Linked DNA regions of Homo sapiens. The protein of the gene in region 1 interacts with the protein of each later gene in a pairwise test. Each region holds a gene or a part of one and is shown on either strand. Other genes may lie near its edges. The genes, in order: CNOT1, THRB, RXRA and CNOT8.

The links.
Region 2: the proteins of CNOT1 (region 1) and THRB interact in a two-hybrid assay, tested with the Homo sapiens proteins (one study listed by IntAct).
Region 3: the proteins of CNOT1 (region 1) and RXRA interact in a two-hybrid assay, tested with the Homo sapiens proteins (one study listed by BioGRID and IntAct).
Region 4: the proteins of CNOT1 (region 1) and CNOT8 interact in binary tests that used the Homo sapiens proteins (3 or more experiments, as listed by UniProt).

The regions. Positions count from the first base shown.
Region 1 is NC_000016.10:58,545,913-58,550,678, forward strand, and holds part of CNOT1 (CCR4-NOT transcription complex subunit 1), read right to left. Parts: intron 3,987-4,766; coding exon 3,807-3,986; intron 2,722-3,806; exon of another isoform or gene 2,587-2,721; intron 1,771-2,586; coding exon 1,654-1,770; intron 1,385-1,653; coding exon 1,274-1,384; intron 838-1,273; coding exon 760-837; intron 587-759; coding exon 409-586; intron 1-408.
Region 2 is NC_000003.12:24,116,186-24,121,649, forward strand, and holds the end of THRB (thyroid hormone receptor beta), read right to left. Parts: 3' UTR 968-5,464; downstream 1-967.
Region 3 is NC_000009.12:134,328,937-134,333,702, reverse strand, and holds part of RXRA (retinoic acid receptor RXR-alpha), read right to left. Parts: intron 1-4,766. UniProt on the Homo sapiens protein: Receptor for retinoic acid that acts as a transcription factor.
Region 4 is NC_000005.10:154,861,050-154,865,815, forward strand, and holds part of CNOT8 (CCR4-NOT transcription complex subunit 8), read left to right. Parts: exon of another isoform or gene 1-620; intron 621-2,157; 5' UTR 2,158-2,229; coding exon 2,230-2,346; intron 2,347-4,142; coding exon 4,143-4,336; intron 4,337-4,766. UniProt on the Homo sapiens protein: Has 3'-5' poly(A) exoribonuclease activity for synthetic poly(A) RNA substrate. Its function seems to be partially redundant with that of CNOT7.

The DNA.
Region 1 (4,766 bases):
CCCTTCTCCCATCTTCTTCATGTAGATAAAACAGTCCCATTCCCTTGGCAGATCTAGCAGGTCTGGCCATACCCAGATTTGAGGGGTTAACAGGCCATCATAGTATGCAGTTATTTCTGGGACTTCACACAACAAAGGAGATAACCTGGCCTAGCTGGGGTATGAGAGGCAACTGATTAAATCACATTTAGTTAATAATATGCATGAACTGTCAGGATGGAATCTAAGATGGTAACACAAGGCCTAGTCATTACTTCTGCTTGATAATTAGAAGGCTCACCAAAACGTATACAAAGTTTCACCACTACATTATGTGGGAAATTATAGTTTGCGATATACATGGACAAGTACCATTTAAGATAGTATCCTAGCTAACAGAAGCCTTCCTTGACTAATTAGCACACTTACTTGTGGTTGTGATGGGAGGGAGTTCTTCTGGCTGCTTGACATCTTTCTTTGGAGCAGAGAGTTGCTCATCTAAATTCTTCAGGCGATCTTTATCCTTTAGGAGGTTTCCAGGTTTTAGCTCATTGATGTCTAATGCAAGGTTCTTGCAGAGAACCTCGATTTCAAACTTCAAGTTTAACTGCACAGTTCCAGAGTTGGATTAGAATTTTTAAAAGAAAACTTTAGTTTTACTCATAATATACTCTACTTTCAGTTATTATAGTACTTCCCCCGAAATACCCTGCCTTCACTGTAAGTTTTAATAATGTGAAGGCAAAGAATGTTCCAGAGGACAAGGAAGCAGTAAATTACCTTTAAGTCATGCTCCTGATGTAGCTCAGCTAATACATTCATAATTGCCATTGTCCAAGGGTTTGGTGGCCTAAAAACCTAAAGAAAAGCTATTATGTTAAGCTGGCCCAAAATGTGCCCTTTAATTTGGATTATTTAAAACAATTCAATACAACATAAGGGGGTAGGGGGGAGTCAAACAAATAAAAAACAAAAAACAAGGATTAAAAAATAACCAAAAACAGTTAAACATAGTTAAACACTTATACCTCTGTAGCCATAACAAAACCCCTAGCCTTCTCACCTATATCACATTTCAAAAACAAAACAAAACAAAAAACCAAAAACCAAAGCCAACCATTATAATCTTTCTTATTTCACCCAGCCTCTCAAATTGGAAATCCAAGTGCCATAGAGGAAAACAGACTTAACTAGCTTTACCTCACAAGAACTAAGAATATAATCTCTTGACCTCATGCTAAAACAAAGCAATGCTTAGAAATTAGTCATAAATAAAATATTAAAATCTACTCACCACACTACGAATGCTAGATTCTAAGACTTTGGCAACAAAGGGCACTACATAGAGCAATTCTTGTTGTCCTTTAACATAAGCCTCTAGCAGCAATGATTTCACATCCAAGTCCTAGAATAAGAAAAATACTTTCAAAAGCGGGGAATATACCCCCCAAAATGGTATAACAAAACCAAAGAAAAGTATTTTGCCAAGCTTATCCCCAAAACAGGAATCAACATAATGTCTAGTCCTTGCCTTACAAAAAGGGGTTAACAACTCAAAACGTGGGCCAAAATCTTACAAAACCCCAATAATCATTAAATAGCTCCAAACAGCCAATACTTGTAATCATAATGTGCTGAAGATTCTCAATTTTTACACATTTAGATGAAACTCACAGTGTGTAAGATGGGTTTGTTTTTAGCTAATGTGATCATTCCTAGCCAATGTCCCAAGTTCTTCAGCAAAGAACGATCTGAGAAATTGGCTGCAGCTTTATCAGAGGTCAGGAGCACCTGAAATAGTGTAAGATTAAGAAAGATATGAGAATAAGCTTATGAAAGAAAACTCAACTAAGTATTTGAGAATTCCATTATCCTATCCTAAAGACAAGTCATCATTTCTAAGAACAGGCCCCAAAGTAGAATTACTCTGTATATCATTCTCAATATCATTTTGCTGTGTTTATGATTCAACAGTGCTATTTTTACCTTGAAGAAGTCTTTACATTTTATTTTTTCAAAATAGGTACAAACACATTGCACAAAATTCAAAAAGAACACAAAGTTATGTGCCAGCTATCCTCCCCTAGAAAAGTATTTTCAACTCTGAAAACCTTAGCTAGGTTTAAAGCAGAGACCTAACTACAAAGCTATTTTGAAGTGCTAAATTAATTTAAATGAGGATGATAGCCATGCTTAAGTCCTTAAAGGCAGCAAGCATACAAAGGAATATAATCAAATTAGCCTCCTATTGCAATCTTCAGTATACCCAGGTCATTAACAAATCTCTGCAGCCAACCAAGATAACTTTCTGAGATATAGTATAATACTGTTTATATACTTCTTTTCAAATTTCTAAAAAACCCAAACCATTTAACTGATTCTCCGGTTACTGTTTTTCTAAGGGGGGGCAGAACTAACATAGGAGAGTGTTTTGGCTGCAGGTATGCACACATGTATATACCCATCTACTCTGTGGTACCTCTTGACTTAGGGCTATATTTAAACTTCTGTTTAAAAAACATGGTCTTGAAACTTTGCTACAGAGTATGTGGAAACTTTTATGTATCCCAACCACCCTTGCTATCAGATAATAAAAACGAAATAGAGCCATGTTCCTTAACTCTATACAGCAACAGCAGAATGGCACAAGTCAGCTGTGCAACAGAGAGCCAGGAATTCTTTTGCACTACAGCGTAACCAAGAATGGGGAATATTCCCATCCACAGGTTTAAATATAGTGCTGGTTCCTAAGCCAATGACCCAAGTTATTGAGCAAAGAATGACCACAGCTGTATGCTGGTTCTAGAAGTTTTTCCTCCTAAGAAATAAATGATGGTTTAGAAATTAAAATACTTGAATTTTGTTGAATAAGCCTCAGCTCAGTAGAATTTGACCTTAAACTGCACAGACTCCTAGACAACAGCTATTCCACAAACAGATTTAGAGTCTAAAGATATCTTGCACTTGAATACTACAAGATACAAACGAAAACATTCAGGACAGCATTGTTTATAATAGTTTAAGTGATTAACAACACAAATGCCCAGCAGCAATACAAATACATACAATGGTTTTCTACAAGACTATATTTTTCTGTTTTTTAAAAAAGAGGACTGGCCGGGCACAGTGGCTCAGGCCTGTAATCCCAGAACTCTGGGAGGCCGAGGAGGGTGGATCACCTAAGGTCAGGAGTTCGGGACCAGCCTGGCCAATATGATTAAACCCCGTCTCTACTAAAAATATAAAAATTAGCTGGGCATGGCGGTACAACTATAATCCCAGCTACTCGGGAGGCTGAAGTAAGAGAACTGCTTGAACCTGGGAGGTGGAGGCTGCAGTGAGCCGAGATCGTGCCACTGCACTCCAGCCTAAGCAACAGAGTGAGACCACATCTCAAAAAAATTGAAAAAAAAAAAAAAAGGGGGCTACAGCAAAGAGCATTATCATTATCATGAATAATATCCAGGGGAGAAAAAAAAGTAAGTGAAAAAAAAAGAAAAGGATGTACAGAGGGCGACACCATACAGAATATGCTAACCAATACTATGCTGCTTATGTATAACAGTGGTAAAGTTCTAAAATCATGCATGGCATGACAAAAACAATTCATAATAGTGGTTACTTTCAAAGAAAAGGCACAGGGTATGCCTATAAATTTAAGTTCTGCATAAAATTTAGTTCCATATAAGAAACAAAATCTACAGCAATTTCCAGAGGTACCTAATATTGACAATATATATGGAAAAATAGCAAAAATCCTACCTATATAATCAAATATTTCCAAATTCAAAGCAATAATTAAAGGAAATATAAGAACCAACTCTTACTTTAATGTTTCTGTAGGTCTCATTCAGAACCATCTTGTTAAATTCAGGATTCTTCAGCGTGTCAAGGAAGTTTGAATACAGGCTATGAAAGTTTGGCTCAATACTGACTCTCTTCATAACCAGATACTGTGAAACCCAAGGCATAAATTCTTCTTTCACCGTTTCCTTTAGCTCTTCAACCTAGCCGGTCAATACGACATGGGAAGCACAGAATTACACTATGATAAAATAACACTTGGTTTCTATGAACCATACTATACAGCACATGGCTCCTTGCAAAACTAACTAGATGCTAAAGAATGACTTTCCTTCACACCAGATAGATGCTATGAAGAAAAGTATGCTCAATTCCATAGTCAATCACAACTCAACCCATACGTGATTGGGACTGAAACATCTATGGCTATTTTCAGCTTTAAAATTATAAAACATGTAGTACCCCATCTCCACATAAATTACTAATCTATAAGCTGCCATTAACATACCTACAGTGTAACCAAGAATGGGGAAAATTCCAGAACTATGTTTTCCTAAATTTCCATCTACAGGAATCCTTAGCTAACTCTGGCGTTTCCAAGTACAGTTAGTTGACCCTTGAACAAGGATTTGAACTACATAGAGTAAAATTAAATGTAGATTTTCTTCTATTAATACCTCCACTACCTCGGAGACACCAAGACCTCCTCTTCTCCTCCTCAGCCTATTAAATATAAAGTTAAAGACCTGTATGATAATCCATTTCCACTTAACAGATGGTAAATATATCTTTTCTTCCTTATAATTTTCCTTCATAGTTTTTCTAGTTTATTTTATTCTTTTTTCTAGTTTATTTTATTCTAAGAATACAGTATTATATGCATATAAGATAGGTGTTAATCAACTATTTGTTTTATCACAGTAAGGCTTCTGCATGGCAGAAAAAATAGTAGGCTGTTAACAGTTAAGTTCTGGGGGAGTAAA
Region 2 (5,464 bases), on another chromosome or scaffold:
TGAGCCACTGCACCAGATCACTTTAGTTCATATGGCCCCTTAGAAGATGGTCTTACACAATTGAGTACTCAGTTGTGTTTGTTTGGTACTAAGTGTGGCCAACTTAGCAAAGCACTTTATATTTATTCTCTTTTCTTCTATGCCTCATTCACTTTTGCCTCCACTCCTTCCTTGGGTGCTATAATGCCTAATAAAATTGCAGCATGAACTTTGCTTTCTGGGGAACCTAGGCTAAGGCAATTCTCTTCTCATTTTAATATAGCCTCCAGGCAATATCACTGTATAGATACAGACTTCATTTATGATTTCATCAGTGTATGGTGTAGGTAGATTGTCTTTAAAGAGTATAACATGGCACTTTTCATCAAGTAGTCAGTGAATTCTCTTGAGATACATGCTCAAATGGTATCTGTAACATTCTGCATTTCAGTAGTTCTACTAAGTTTTGCTTTGGTTTAGACACCATTTAATGTGTCAGAATTTGTGTACATAAACCTGATGACAATTCCCCTTATTTACAAAGCTATGGTGCCCTGAGTGTCTAAACATAAAAACCAGAGTGAGCTGTCATCTTGAGGGTGGAGAAGCAAACCAACTTTGTCCTCTGGCTTCTCTTCATAGATTATTAGACTTTTCCAGGTTTGTGACATGACAACAGCTTCTGGCTTTGCCTGTGTAAAGGGGTTAAGAATTGTACCTAGCTGGAATATATATGTTCCAGCTCTCCACAATAAATGAATCCAGTAATTTCTTGGAGGAGGGAAATATGTTCATTAGGAGGAAGTTGGGAGGTACATAATGTAGACAAGAGATAAATATATAAAGGTTAATCTTAGTCATTTGAATATAGAGTGGAAAAACTCAGAAAATAGTACTCTGAACTGATCTAGCCTAGGGAAATAATGATGCTTGCCCCATCTTACCTGAACTGGTGTTTTCACGAACCAGGAAGAATGCGATCAAACACTTTCTTTGGAAGGTGTTTATTTGGTTCATGTCCTGGCCAAATAAAAACTTGGAGATGAGCTTCCTCTGTGTGAAGGAGAACCGCTTGCTGTACTGAAATGGGATGTTGTTTTAGATTTACCTTTGGTGTGGGCACTGGTTGCTTTTGCTTGCCCACCATTCTCTTCCACTTATAGCAGCAAGACTTAGAATTTTCTTTCAGGAATCATCTTGCCTCAACTCTCAGTCCATAGTTTAGATGAAGCTGACTGTCCCTCTTTCCCCTCACCCAGTTCCAGGATTCCTGAGGATAAGGTTGGTTATGCATCTGTTTTCCTCACCACAGTGATTGGCTCAGGAATGGGCACATGACTGAACTTGGGCCAGTGAGAATTAGGCCAGAATTTTCATTAGAATTGTTGGAGAAAAGAAATTCTCCTTTCACTATATTTGGAGCTGTAAAGCTCATCCTGGAGCTATTGGAGGCCACCGTAAGGTGAAAGGCCATGTGAATGTTAAGTCTACATGAATGACAAAAAAAGGAGCTTCCTGAGAATACTGAGTAAGTGCACCCAGATCCAGCCATGCCTGAAGCTTTGGTATGCAATACCCTAGATCCCAGATATTAAAGTCAATAATTAGCTTTCTGCTTAAGCCAGTTTGAGTTAGCTTTTTGTTACTTGTCATAGAAAGAATCTCAATTAACATGTGTTCAGGGCAACAGAGATTGAGATATATGTTGGCAGCTGATGTTAACATAATTCCATTAGTAATATTCCTGAATAATTTGAGATGAGAAGATGAATGTTGTCCTTGAGCTGCAAAACTTCACCTCTCTCCTCCCTTCATCTTTGTGGCCCCTTCCAAAGAGGTAACCCCCCATCAGCATTTTACTTAGTTTCTTCTCTCCCTCCATAGTTTCTTCTCAAGTAAATTTGCTTATTCTAGTAGATGTTTATTTATGAAATAAATGTCCTTACATCCGTGGTTCCGTCTTTTGGCAGCAGCTGAAGTGAGAAGAGCAGGCAACTCTTTGCCTATGTAGAAAATAATAATATTTAAAGAAAGAGACAGGAAAATATATCTGTTATAAGCTTTTTCTTTTTTAGAATTTAAGCTTATGAGTTTATCTACGCCCACTATATTCATAATTACAGTTTTATATCTGCATACAAAAGCTATGTAAAAATCCATTTTTCCCAAATATACAAATTTTTTTTGGATAGTTTAAAACATTTTGATCACAGATTTCAACAGAGTTTTAGGCTGAAAAAAATATCACCATCTAGCAATATCACTTAACACTGTTTGCAAAACACAAATCTTCCAATGACTGTAAATCTTTTTCTATTCTGTAGTATTTTTCTGATTCTCAGGGCATGAAAACATTATGGGAAAAAAAAGGATTTTCTACGAAGAAAGCATGGAGAACTAATTTGGCTCTATGGTCAAATTAAAAATGCCAAGTTAATAAGGGAGAACCAAAAGAAAGAAGTGGCATAATGTCACATCAGCTCATTCATGCCCTGATAATTTCTGTATCAACAATACATATGTAAAGTGTCTCCTTTTGTCTTACATTGTGCTCCATAATTTACATGAGTATTATCTGCATCCTGAGGAGGACAGATTTATATTTGATTGTCTTGTGCATAGGGTGGGTCAGCTTTAACTGTGCAACAGAAAGCCACAAACAGCGTTTTACCTGCACAATATTGCTCTTGAAGGCGGCATTAATTAATGTGGAAACACACTATAAATGCACACTTTTCGCATTTGCAAACATTTATACAGCACAGTAAAAATTCTGTGATAAGGCCAAACCTTTTTTCCCCCAGTCTGGTTTTTTTTTTTTTTTTTTTTTTTTTTTTTTGAGTGTGTTTTTAATGCATTTTTTTTAAAGATTAAAGTAAAATGTCTCAATTGTAAAAAATACACACCGGGCAAATCCTTACCTGGATAATAAATATCTACATCACAGTACAATAAAATTTCTTCTCTATAAAATTTAAATATGGATTATAGTCTATCACTATCAAAAGAAACACTATGCTAATATTTCCATATTATTAAAATAACAGGAAAAATTACGAGCTTATTTTAGAACCTGATGCCATAGCCGTTGGAAAGGGCAAAGAGATTCAAATGTCGATCATCACTCTCCATTTGAGGAGGAACTGTGGCTTGGTTATTCACTTAAATTCAGTTCATGAAAAAGGTTTAGCCTTACAAATGCTGGCTACATTTCAAAAACTGTAAGACTGATTTCATAATTTATGACTCATGCAGCAAAAGGTCAATATGACACGAATAGGTTAGAGTTCCATAGAATAAAAAGGTATCACTGACAATGACATGCTTCAAGGGTGCTCAGCGGTTCCTTGGAGGCTGAGTCTGTGGGGGGCTTAGTGTCGAGGAGGGGCCAGGGCTTGTACCCCTGTTCATGGAGGAGCAACAAGAACGGCGTTGCTGGCACAGAGCGAAGGCCTGGCAGTCCACCCCAGGCCTGCACTGCACACTGAAGAGCTGTCGCCCGGGGCACAGGTGAGGGGCTTCGCTGGGCTGAGGCATCAACAGGTCAAGCGCGTCATTGAGGACCGAGGCTCTAGAAAAAGCTCTGAGGCGGCACGTGGTGTTTTGAGCAGAATCATAAAGAAGAAAACATCTTACTTTTTTCATTGTTTCTGGAAATACTGCACGTCTAAATTGAGCAAAGTACACTTGAGGGTCACACACGCACGCGCATACACTCACACGCACACACGCCCCACACCGCTCATCCCTAAAAGGGAAGTGATTTATAAATACAAATCCCAGCATAATGGGTGTGTTCTCCTCTACTGAGACGTCTCCCTGCCGAGGGGGTGGGAGCGCAGGTGTGAAGGGTATCTCCATCAGGTCCACACTGGATTTGCAAGTCTGGACAATAGATGAAAAAATGTTTAGAAAAATCTAGAGCAAATCCCTCACAAATGAGTTTTATGAGATGGAGTCTTGAGATGCACTAAGTACCTCTGTCAGCTTCAGAAGGAAGGAGTTTAGTTTCAGAGTCATTATCTTTTGAGTCCTATGGCCTTTCCTTTCAACCTGAAGGTGGGCTAAGGCTTGTCCTACTCCGCATGAAGTATTCAGCCTTCAACGAGATTTCCAGACCAGCAGTTTGCCTATTGAAGGCAATCAATCATTTAAGGTGCCAAGGATCAAACGTTCCTTTACTTGCGGCTGGCTGGATGGCTGTTTATATGCCATACTATTTGGCCAATTCTCGATCATGGTTAGTCCCCAAAGCATTCTGATTTAGCTTGAGATCAGGCTCTGAACTTATATTCAAATCTGGGTGTCTGATGTACTGAGGACCCTGTCAAACAAAATGAGGAAACTTTCCCCAGAAGGCCTGACGCTGCAGGACCCTGCCTGCTTGCCTTCCTCTCATTCCCTTTGGAAAGAAAGCTTGCCCCAGACAGCAGAGCTTCTCAGGGTTACCCTGGAGCACAGAGGTGGCTAAGTGTTTGTCTTCCAAAGAGCGGTTGGTTCCTCAAGGAGTCAAGAGAGGAAGCTGAAATATTAGCAGAGCAAGCAATTAAGGAGCCTGGCCAGAGGCTGCCTAGACAAAACCAAACCCCAAAACAATCTGTCTGTAGATAAAGCAGGTAATCTGCCAATGAATTTCGTGCTTATAATTGTAAATCTTTTCACTTCCTTTCTCTGGGTAACAAGTTCCATAGCAATGTTCTTGTTTCCTTTTTCCCAGAAGCCAGTACAATTGCTTTCATGCATTGAATATTTAATTCCCCGCTCCCAGATAATTTCCAATCATACTTGGAATTTTCAGTGCTGTTCCTCTTCTTTTTCCAAGGCCTCTAAATGGTTGACTAGTATTGTGTCAAATTATTATTTCGAGCCAATAACAAATTTACGTTCCTTAACTGTTAAGTGGGCCATACTTCTTGTCTAATAAAGTTAGGAATTTAAGTGTTAAAAAAAAATAATTAAAGGAACCAGATTTTTTTTTTCCCCTTGAAATTCAGACAATATTAAGGGCAGGAAGGGTTTTAGAGATCATGACTTATTCACCAGGTAAGAAAACCAAGACCTAGAATTACAAATCTACCAGTTGACAGAGCACGAACTAGAACTCAGGCACCCAGACTTCTGGGCCAGTTATGCTCCACCAAACTTACAAAAAGCATCTACTTGGTTTCCATAGTGACTTTCCTTCCTTTGTTTTTAGGTAAATCTCACTGATATGGCTTATTTTCCCCAATATTTCCAGGATAAGGCAGTAAAAGGTAGGCAAAGGAATAGTTTATATCTACTATGCCAGTGGAGAATGAGATACATTCAATTGCATGGGTACATTCTATGCCCATTTTCTGACGCTGAAGAGATGAAGTGTCACTGTTTGTTTTCTGGGCACAAGCTATTCTAGCATGGGCCGTTGGGGAGGCAGGTTGGGCAGGAAAGTTAAGTGTGCACATGGTCTGCAGGTGTTTTCTATTGAGTATCTGTCAGGGTATGC
Region 3 (4,766 bases), on another chromosome or scaffold:
AGATCCCTCCCCGGGGCTTCCCAGCCTCACTGCATTCTGGGCTGCAGCACCAGGAAGCCTGTTGAATCAGTAACCTCATTACAGCCGGCGGCCGCACCCGGGGTTGTCTTTGAACTCCGAGGGTTTATCCATGGCGGCTGGAGGATTTACACACGGCCTGGCCCAGGCCCAACTCACTCTCCCCTCCCCTCAGCGCCAGAGGCTCCAGACCCCGCACGCACGGCAGCAGTCTGCGCCGACACCCATCACCCCCAGCCCTGGCCCCGGGTACAGCTGGGGAAACCGAGGCCCAGCTGGAAATTACTATGGCTTAGAGGGCCAACAGAGGTGCGGGGAGGCCAGGCACGGCCTCTGGGTCACCCCAGAGGTAGGACTGTGACCAAGGGCTTCCCGGCATCCCTCACCCCAGCAGGCAGTGCCTGGAAGAGGAGCTGGGGCTGAAGCCTATCATCAAAGACAGATGTGGGCTGTGCAGGACAGACCCCGTGGCAACTTCTCACACAGAGACCCTGAGAGGCTCTGATCCCCTGAAGGACCCCTGAATGTCCCACTCCCCAGCCCCAAAGTCTGGTCCCCTCCATGGTCTCAGCATCCCTGATCCGGCCCCAAGAGGCCCGGCTGCTCTACTCCCCCTGGACGGCCTGCCCCCTACTTCATCCAGAGCCTGGGGAGTGCAGGGGGGGCCGGAGCCAGGGCCAGGGAAAAGGTGCCTCACCCATACCCGTGCCCGGGAAAGACGACCCCCAGGCCAGCCCAGGGACCTGGCCTAAGCCCCCAGGAAGATGCTAGGAATCCTCCCCCCTTCCCAGGCTGCCATGCTGAGGAGCCCAGCCAGGGCAAGGGTGCAAGGCCATTCACAGGGGCCCCAAGGCCCACCTGAAACCAGTGAGCCACCTGGAGAGAGTCACTTCCTCCTTCCAGGCCTTGCCTGGCTGCCTCCAGACCACCCTCTGCACAGCACTGGTGGCCTCATTCCAGCCATGAGCACCACACTGGGATCCCCCAGTCTCCGGGCACCCATGCACCTACGCCCGGCACACAGGCCCTACCCAGCCTCACCTCACACGTGAACCCCCTCCTGGTTCCAGCCCTGCAACCCCACCCTTGCGTCCTCACCCTCTTCACCCCCTCCAGGCCAGACCTTGCTGTCCCTACCTCTGGGCACCCCTCCCCCACCCCTCCTCCACAGGCAGCAGGACCAGGCCAGCACCCAGCGGGCGCTCCCTAAGCCACGTGTGGACAAGCCCACCAGCAATCCCCGCCTCCCCAGCCAGGGTTGTCAAGGCTCTGCCAGGTCACCCTGGGAAGGCTGCGGCGGACGCCTGCATGCATGGGGTGGGCCGCGTGTGCTGGGTTAGGACCTCAGAAAGAACTGTGCCCCTACCCTGCCCTGCCCTGGGACCCGGGGGTCCAATCTCACTCCGTCCACTCCCCCAGGTACCTCAGGAATTTGCTGCAGACAGTGCTGCCCTGGTGGCATGAGGAGGTGGGCAAGCCACAGTTCCAGGCTGGGCCTCTGCTGCTCACCCAACTACAGCTTTCCACCTGGGAGTGGGGACTTCTCCTAGCCACCACCCCAAGCCAAGGACAACCCTGGAGTGAGGATCAAGGGGTCGCCACTCCTTAGAGGGCCTTCAACCAGCACAAGAGGCCAAGATGCCCAGTCCCAGGGCACAGAGCTGGCATGGTGAGACCTCAGCCCTCCACCAGGGTCCCCACTGAACAAAAACCTCACTCACTCGGGCCAAGACCAGCAATGGGGCTCCTGGGAACCAGCATGGGGCATAGACCCAGCCTGGTCGGTGAGCAGCCTCTGAGGATGCTGAGAGGCAGGAGGACCAGGGGCAGCAGAGCCCCCACCCTGGGGACAGGTCCTCCCAGCTGGAGCTCAAGGCGGCCCCCGCCAGTCAAGTGCCGGAGAAAAAGCAGGCCCCACAGCGGGACACAAAGGCTGGCCCACAGACCTCACCCAGGGTTCAGTGTCCCCATCCACTAAGTGGGCTTGTCTCTGTGACACCTCCACAAGGTCCCAAAAATAAAGTCCCTGGCACGCAGCAGGCACCCGCTGCAGCCATCGGCACCTTCGTGGGGGTAGGGTGAGTCCTGGACAAGTTGGGGAGATTTAGAAAAAAAGGAGGCCAACAAACCCAGCAGGGAGCACCATGATCCTTGGGGGACCCCATGAGGCCTGGCTCACTCACGGGCACGCCAGGACACGGGCCAGCGGCCAACAGCGCCAGGTGAGAGCCTGTGACTCTGTGTGTGTGCAACAGTGAGCGTGCACACACCCAAGCCCTGCACGCGGTCCGCACCCGCTCTCCCCACAGCGGCCGGGCCAATTTTCCTTAGCTGCTTTCTGCTCCATTTCACGCTCATTCAGCTGCTGAGCTAGACAATTGCTTTGTAACTCTAGGGCGCAATTTCCCTGTCTGTGAGGCGCTGGGGCACAACTGCTCAGAACATCTCGCACCAGGCTCGGGTGGGTGTGCAAACCGCGGTCCCTCGCCCCACCTGCCTTCTTGGGACTCTGAGGAGGGTCCCTGGAGTGGCACAGGGGCTGGTCCCAAGGACCCAGCAGCAGCGAGCGCTCTCCTGTGGCAGGCCTATATCCACAGAAAGGGCTACCTCAGTGTCCCCGATGTCCTCTATTCCTGAGTCTGTTCCTCTACACCTGACAGCCCCCAGCGACCATCATGGCCTGTTCTGGTCCAGTGCTGGAAACCTGGCCCCACCTGACCCAGGCAGGAGGCACAGAGAGGACCTAGCCACAGGATAGGGGAAACGCCCCACAAACAGACTCCCCAAACTCCCAGCCAGCCTACAACACACCAGGCTGCCTTCTCCAGCATTTGGAAGAGCCAATGAGTATGTCCATTTTTCAGATGGACAGCCAAAGCCCCAAGAGGCCAAAGAGCAGACCAGGCAGGCAGCGAGGACAGAAGGCCCAACCCCAGGTGGCCTGACCACCCGCCCAGCAATGGGACACCACCTGTCAGAACCTCTTCCTGGGAAGGTGCTGATCCCTGCAAAACCACCACCACCTCCATCCTGCAGGTAACAAAGGCCCTGAATGGGAGGGGGCAGAGGAGAGGAAGGAAGGATGAAAGACAGAGCTGCACCCTATAAAATGGAAACATACAGGCAGGTGGGCAAGGTGCAGGGGGGAGGAGGGTGACCCCTCTACCCACACCATAGCACCCTGAAACTGATCAGCTTAAGAATCTCAGGACAAAGGTCTGGAAGGTGACCCCCAAATGGACACCAGCCCCCAACAGCCACAGGCCAGCCCCCCAGGCCCTTGTGGCCCTAGACCCCAGCCTCATCCCTAGCCCAGCAAATGGCCAATTCCTATGAAAACACACCAGTTAACAGGCCAACCCAAGGCCCTGGCCACCAAAGCCAGCTAAAAAACACAAACTCAAGCCTGGCAGAGAAGGGAAGGAGGGGCAGGTCTTGGCTTGCAAAGCCCGGGTCCCAGGGACAGTGTCCCAGCCCTGAGCCAGCTGGGGGTTGGGGAGGGCCTCTGCCCTGTGTCTGCTGGGACAGCTGTGCCCTCTTCTCCAGAGGACAGGCATTGCTCACCACTCGAGGTCCCAGCCCTGAAACATTTGACCCATGGCAAAACCAAACGTCACCCAAGAAAGGAAACTCCCCAGGCAGCCTCCACTGGCACTGGGTGGACCTGTAAAGCTTTCACCCCGCCCCCACACCACCTTCCATGCAGCTGAGGTCTGTCCCACCCTCTCCTGATGCCAGAGCCCCCTGCCACATGCACGACCAGGCCCCAGGGGCAGAGGGGCACACCCCTGAGTACCCCCTGTTCCCACAGTAATTCCACAGCAAATCCTGCAGGCACCCTTTCCCAGGGGAGGAAACAAAGACCACTGACAGCGACCTCCCACACAGCCACGGGGGAGATGGGGCAGGGGCCAAGAGAGGGCAGTCAGAGGGGCCTCCTGGTGGAGGTGAGCCCCCCACAGGCCCTGAAGGACAGGCACAGCTGGAAGAACCACCAGGTGCTGGCAGAGCCGGGAGCCAGTCACAGCAGCTGCCCGCGTGACCAGGGCTGCCGGCTCAACCTGCACCCCACACCCCAAGGGACTCAGAGCACCCGCCCCCCACCAGCCCTTCCTAGGGGCCCAGCTCGTCCCATCCACATCTGGGCAGAGGGTCACAGCTGCATGCTCGGGTCCAGGCCCAGCAGCCAGCCCTAGGCAAGGTTGGAGGCTAGCAAGCCAGGGCCACCATCGGACTGGGCCATTTTTCTCTCCCTGACACCTCCCCAGTCAACAAACAGGGCCCCTCCAGAGTTTACCAAAACAAACACCCTGCCGTCGGGCAGCGCCCGCGCTAAAAGACGCCCTCGTCAGGCCCGAGCGGGACTCCAAGCCCAGCCTCCTGAGAGTCACATGACCCTGTTATTTCGGGAGGCCCCGGAATGTGCTCTATTTTGGGTCCCAAGGGCTCTGATGTTACCAGAAGCCCCTCACACAGGCTGCAAGCTCACCCAGGCCCCCAAGTGCCCCAACTCCAAGAGTGGTCAGCGGGCCTACAGCTTTGCCACCGGGTCTCTCCACAGGCGCATGGGGTCTGGTGTGGTCTGAGACCTTTGGACTCTGTGGACTCCGCCTGAGTCCCACCATTCAGGATAAGGCCAGCGGGGGCCTTCTCCCCGGCAGGCGTGGGAGCGCGGCCAGCCCCGGGCAGCAGGGCCAGGAAGCTGGGGCTGCCTCTGGCGAGTCCCTCGGCCTTGCTTTCCTTCCAGA
Region 4 (4,766 bases), on another chromosome or scaffold:
GTTAGGGAAATAAGGAAGTACCACCGATTTAACATTATATGGGTATAGAAAATGGTTTTAAGGCCTTTTGCAGGGGAGAAATCTTAAGCAAGTTTAGGAATCTAAAATTCTGAGTCGAAACATTTTCTGAATTATGGTCAGATAGTGTAATTTACTCCACATTCATTCTGAACTTCTCTCTTTTCCTGATCTTTATTGTTCTTTTGCAAGCCTGTAATAGAACAAAAACAAGAGAAGAAATTTATTCTGGCTTTAAGAAGTTTCTACTATGTTTTTTGGGGGAGATGCCACATAGTCTACTTAAGTTTAATTACTGTAATTACAGAGAAAAATCTGTGGAAGTATAGGATACCTTGAATAAATGGAATCTTCAAGGTTTGCTGGCAAACCAACAGTTTGATTTCTCAGAAGTTTCTTAGAGAAATGATGCCAGTTTTGTTTTGCTCCAGATTCTCATTGTTGCATCTGCCAATCTTGAAAATAGGAAGCAAAGATTTTCCTTGCTCTGTCCCTTGGGAACCACTTACATTCGTTTTACTGTTTCTAGGAAATTTTCTTTAAATATATACATTAGAGCCCACTATTGTGTTGTGGATCCATGCAGTGGGCTTGCCTTAGAAGTAAGTGCCTTTATGATAAGCTCTTTTTTGTTTGTTTGTTTGTTTTTGAGACGGAGTCTCGCTCTGTCGCCCAGGCTGGAGTGCGGTGGCGCGATCTTGGCTCACTGCAACCTCTGCCTCCTGGGTTCAAGCGATTCTGCTGCCTCAGCCTCCCGAGTAGCTGGGACTGCAGGCGCGTGCCACCACAGCCAGCCAACGTTTTGTATTTTTAGTAGAGACGGAGTTTCACCGTGTTAGCCAGGATGGTCTCTATCTCCTGACCTTGTGATCCGCCCGCCTCGGCCTTCCAAAGTGCTGAGATTATAGGCGTGAGCCACCATGCCCGGCTTTTTTGTATTTTTATAACCAGGCCTTGTACGTTGTTTGCCATAATAATAACAGCATTCGTCAGAGACCCAATCATGTTGAATTTTTTTCTCACAGAATACTTTCCCCTCCCTGATTTTTCTCCTGGAAAATACACCATGAATCATTCTGTTTCTGGTTGAATGATTTACACCAGCCATCTTTAGTCCTACTGTTGAATTGCTGCATAGTTTCTTTTTAATTTATGTGTTTAAAAGTAAATACTGGCCGGTGGATCACAAGGTCAGGGGTTCAAGACTAGCCTGACCAATATGGTGAAACCCCATCTCTACTAAAATACAAAAAATAGCTGGGCGTGGTGGCGTGCACCTATAGTCCCAGCTACTTGGGTGGCTGAGGCAGGAGAATTGCTTGCACCCAGGAGGCAAAGGTTGCAGTGAGCCAAGAGTGCACCACTGCACTCTAGCCTGGGCGACAGAGCAAGACTCCATCTCAAAAAAAAAAAAGTAAATACTAACTAAAATTCTGATTTGCATTGTGGTTTTTAGGGTTCAGATTAGCAAGTGGGATTGTTTTTTAGCACTTAAATCCCTCACTTCATGCTCTGTTTGCACAAATCTAAAGAGGCACTGGTATGTCTAAAGAGGCACTGGTATTGTTTATTACCTCTAGTTGTATTTGACTTTGGGATTGTAGAGAAAAATAATTTCCTTTTGTGGGATGGGGGAAGAATCCCATGCCAGTATTCATCATATGGGTACAAAGGCTTGAGTGTGAGAGTTTAGGTCCACATTCTTTCAGGTTTTCAGAGATCTCAGGTACATTGAAAATGGCTAAGATGATTCCTGTAGGACTGTTTCCATGATTTGGTCTCTGTGCAAAGTGATGTGAAAGTCATGGATAAGGGCATATTTGTGGTAACGGAATTATTTTGGTCTAGTCTACAGAGAGCTGAAAAACTAGGGTAGTGGTTTCACTTCTGTGGCAGAGGACTGCTGGGCAGAAGTTTCAATAACTTCAGTTTCTTCAAGAAAGAACTGTGTGTGTGTGCGTGTGTGCATGTGTGTGTGTGTGTTGACAAAGTTTCTCCATCATATAAAATGGAGAATAAATATAATCTTAATGTTTTAAACTAATGAAGTGATTGTAAAATATTATTTTGATGTCTTTGTTGTGTTGACATCTTATGTGTGTGTAAACTTACATGATTTTAAAATGTTTTACAATCTAGATCAGACCAAACATTGTCTGGCTTGCACTGTAAAACTAGTTAGCTGAAGACGACTTCTCAGGTTTCTTCAGGATGCCTGCAGCACTTGTGGAGAATAGCCAGGTTATCTGTGAAGTGTGGGCCAGTAATCTAGAAGAAGAGATGAGGAAGATCCGAGAAATCGTGCTCAGTTACAGTTATATTGCCATGGTAAGGAGCTCTACTCTGACTCACCTTCTTTGTCACTTTTAAAGTTGGGGTCTTGCTCTGTTGCCCAGGCTGGAGTGCGGTGGCTATTCACAGATGCAATCATAGCTCACTGCAGCCTTGAACTCCTGGGCTCAAGCAGTCCTCCCACCTCACCTTTCCAGGTTGCTGGGACTGCAGGCTCATACCACTATGCCCAGCTTGACTCACCTTCTTATATGGATGGGTTTAGGGAATGTTTAATTTGAGATTTTGAAAAGAATGGGTATGTTCCACTAAAGCCATTGTAAATTAAACCGGATGGAAGGTTGTGTTGCTTCATGAAATATCAAGGTAGCCAGTGTCTCTGAGAAGGATGTAACCTCTAGTATCTTAGATTTTTTATAACATTATTCTGTTTGAAAGTCTTTAAAGCAGAAGTTACGTCATCCCCTAGGGCCCAGCTGTTCCACAGATATGTTGGATTTGACTATACGATGTTAAGAATTTTAAAAATTTATTGCCAGCATTTAAAAGTCAATAGAACTCACTTGAATTCCAGATTTCTGGCATCTCTGAAAAAAAAAAATAGGAAGATCTGGCAATATCTGTTATCCACTCCTGCCTGACACTGGCTGGAGAGAGAGATGAGTATTGTGGTAATATTAAGGGCCTCCTGTAGACGGGCATGTGCTCTCTGTTTTACTCCAGTCCCGATTACTTGTACTATTTTCATACCTAGCTGACTTTACTCCTTTACATTAGCTGCTTGGAGTTTGTGACTCCTGCTTTAGAAATTATAGAGTTGGCCGGGCGCGGTGGCTCACGCCTGTAATCCCAGCACTTTGGGAGGCCGAGACGGGCGGATCACGAGGTCAGGAGATTGAGACCATCCTGGCTAACACGGTGAAACCCTGCCTCTACTAAAAATACAAAAAATTAGCCGGGCATGGTGGTGGGCGCCTGTAGTCCCAGCTACTCGGGAGGCTGAGGCAGAGAATGCGTGAACCCGGGAGGCAGAGCTTGCAGTGAGCCGAGATCGTGCCACTGCACTCCAGCTTGGGGGACAGAGCGAGACTCCGTCCCAAAAAAAAAAAAGAAATTACAGAGTTAAGTCTTTAGCTTGGTATTCAGAGCTCCTTCCAGTCTTTTCACTCAAGCTAAGCCTGTCTCTTTATATTTTTTTCTGAATGGCTGTTTCACTTCCCTGTATTTGTATTTTTATTCATATATTGTTCTCTACCTAGAATGTTCTTAATTGACTGCATATCTACCTGTAGTTACTCAACTCTTTCTATTGACATTCTGCTTATTTAGGATCAAGTTGTTGTGCAAAGCTTCATGATTTTAGTGCTTCTTCAGTAGATACCAACAAGATCAGTATTTTAAGATAGGATTTTGGCTGGGTGTGTTGGCTGATGCCTGTAATCTGTGCACTTTGGGAGGCCGAGGCAGGTGGATCACTTGAGACCAGCCTGGGCAACATGGTGAAACCCCATCTCTACAAAAAAATACAATAATTAACTGGGTGTGGTGGTGTGCACCTGTAGTTCCAGCTACTTAGGGAGGCTGAGGTGGGAGGATTGATTGCACCTGTGAGGTTGAGGCTGTAGTGAGCTGTGATTGTGCCACTGCCCTCCAGCCTGGGTGACAGAGACAGACCAACCCTATCTCAAAAAAACACAAAAAGAATTTTGTGCCCAAGTTTGGGGCTTGCCACATAACTTTTATAAATGGAGGTAAAATTTTATTTATGAATTACCAATTCAGCATCCACTGTTTTGTGAAACCTTGTGATGAGAGACTTTTTCCTTTTCCAGGACACAGAATTTCCAGGTGTTGTGGTGCGACCAATTGGTGAATTTCGTAGTTCCATAGATTACCAATATCAGCTTCTGCGGTGCAATGTTGACCTTTTAAAAATTATCCAGCTGGGCCTTACATTCACAAATGAGAAGGGAGAGTATCCTTCTGGAATCAATACTTGGCAGTTCAATTTCAAATTTAACCTTACGTAAGTGATTTCTAAATAAATGCGTTAATTTTAAGTTTTGTTTTCACTGAATCCAGGTGGGTGTTGGATAGAGCGGTCAAGCAGAGGACGGAACAGGGAATCTCAGCAAGTGAAGTCCTGCTTAAAGAACTGCAGCAGCTCAACAATGAAAAGATAAACAACCCAACTAAAAATGTGCAAAAGATAGACTTTTCTTGAAAGATAATGTACAGATGGCCAGTAAGCACATGAAAAGATGCTCAACATCATTAGTCATGAGGGAAATGCAAATTAAACCCACATTGGGATACCACTTCACACCCACTAGAATGGCTATAGTCAAAAAGACATAATAAGTGTTGTTGAGGGTGTGGAGAAAATTGGAACCCTCATACATTGCTGCTGGGAATATAGAATTTTGGGGGAAATTCTGGAAAATAGTTTTGCAGTT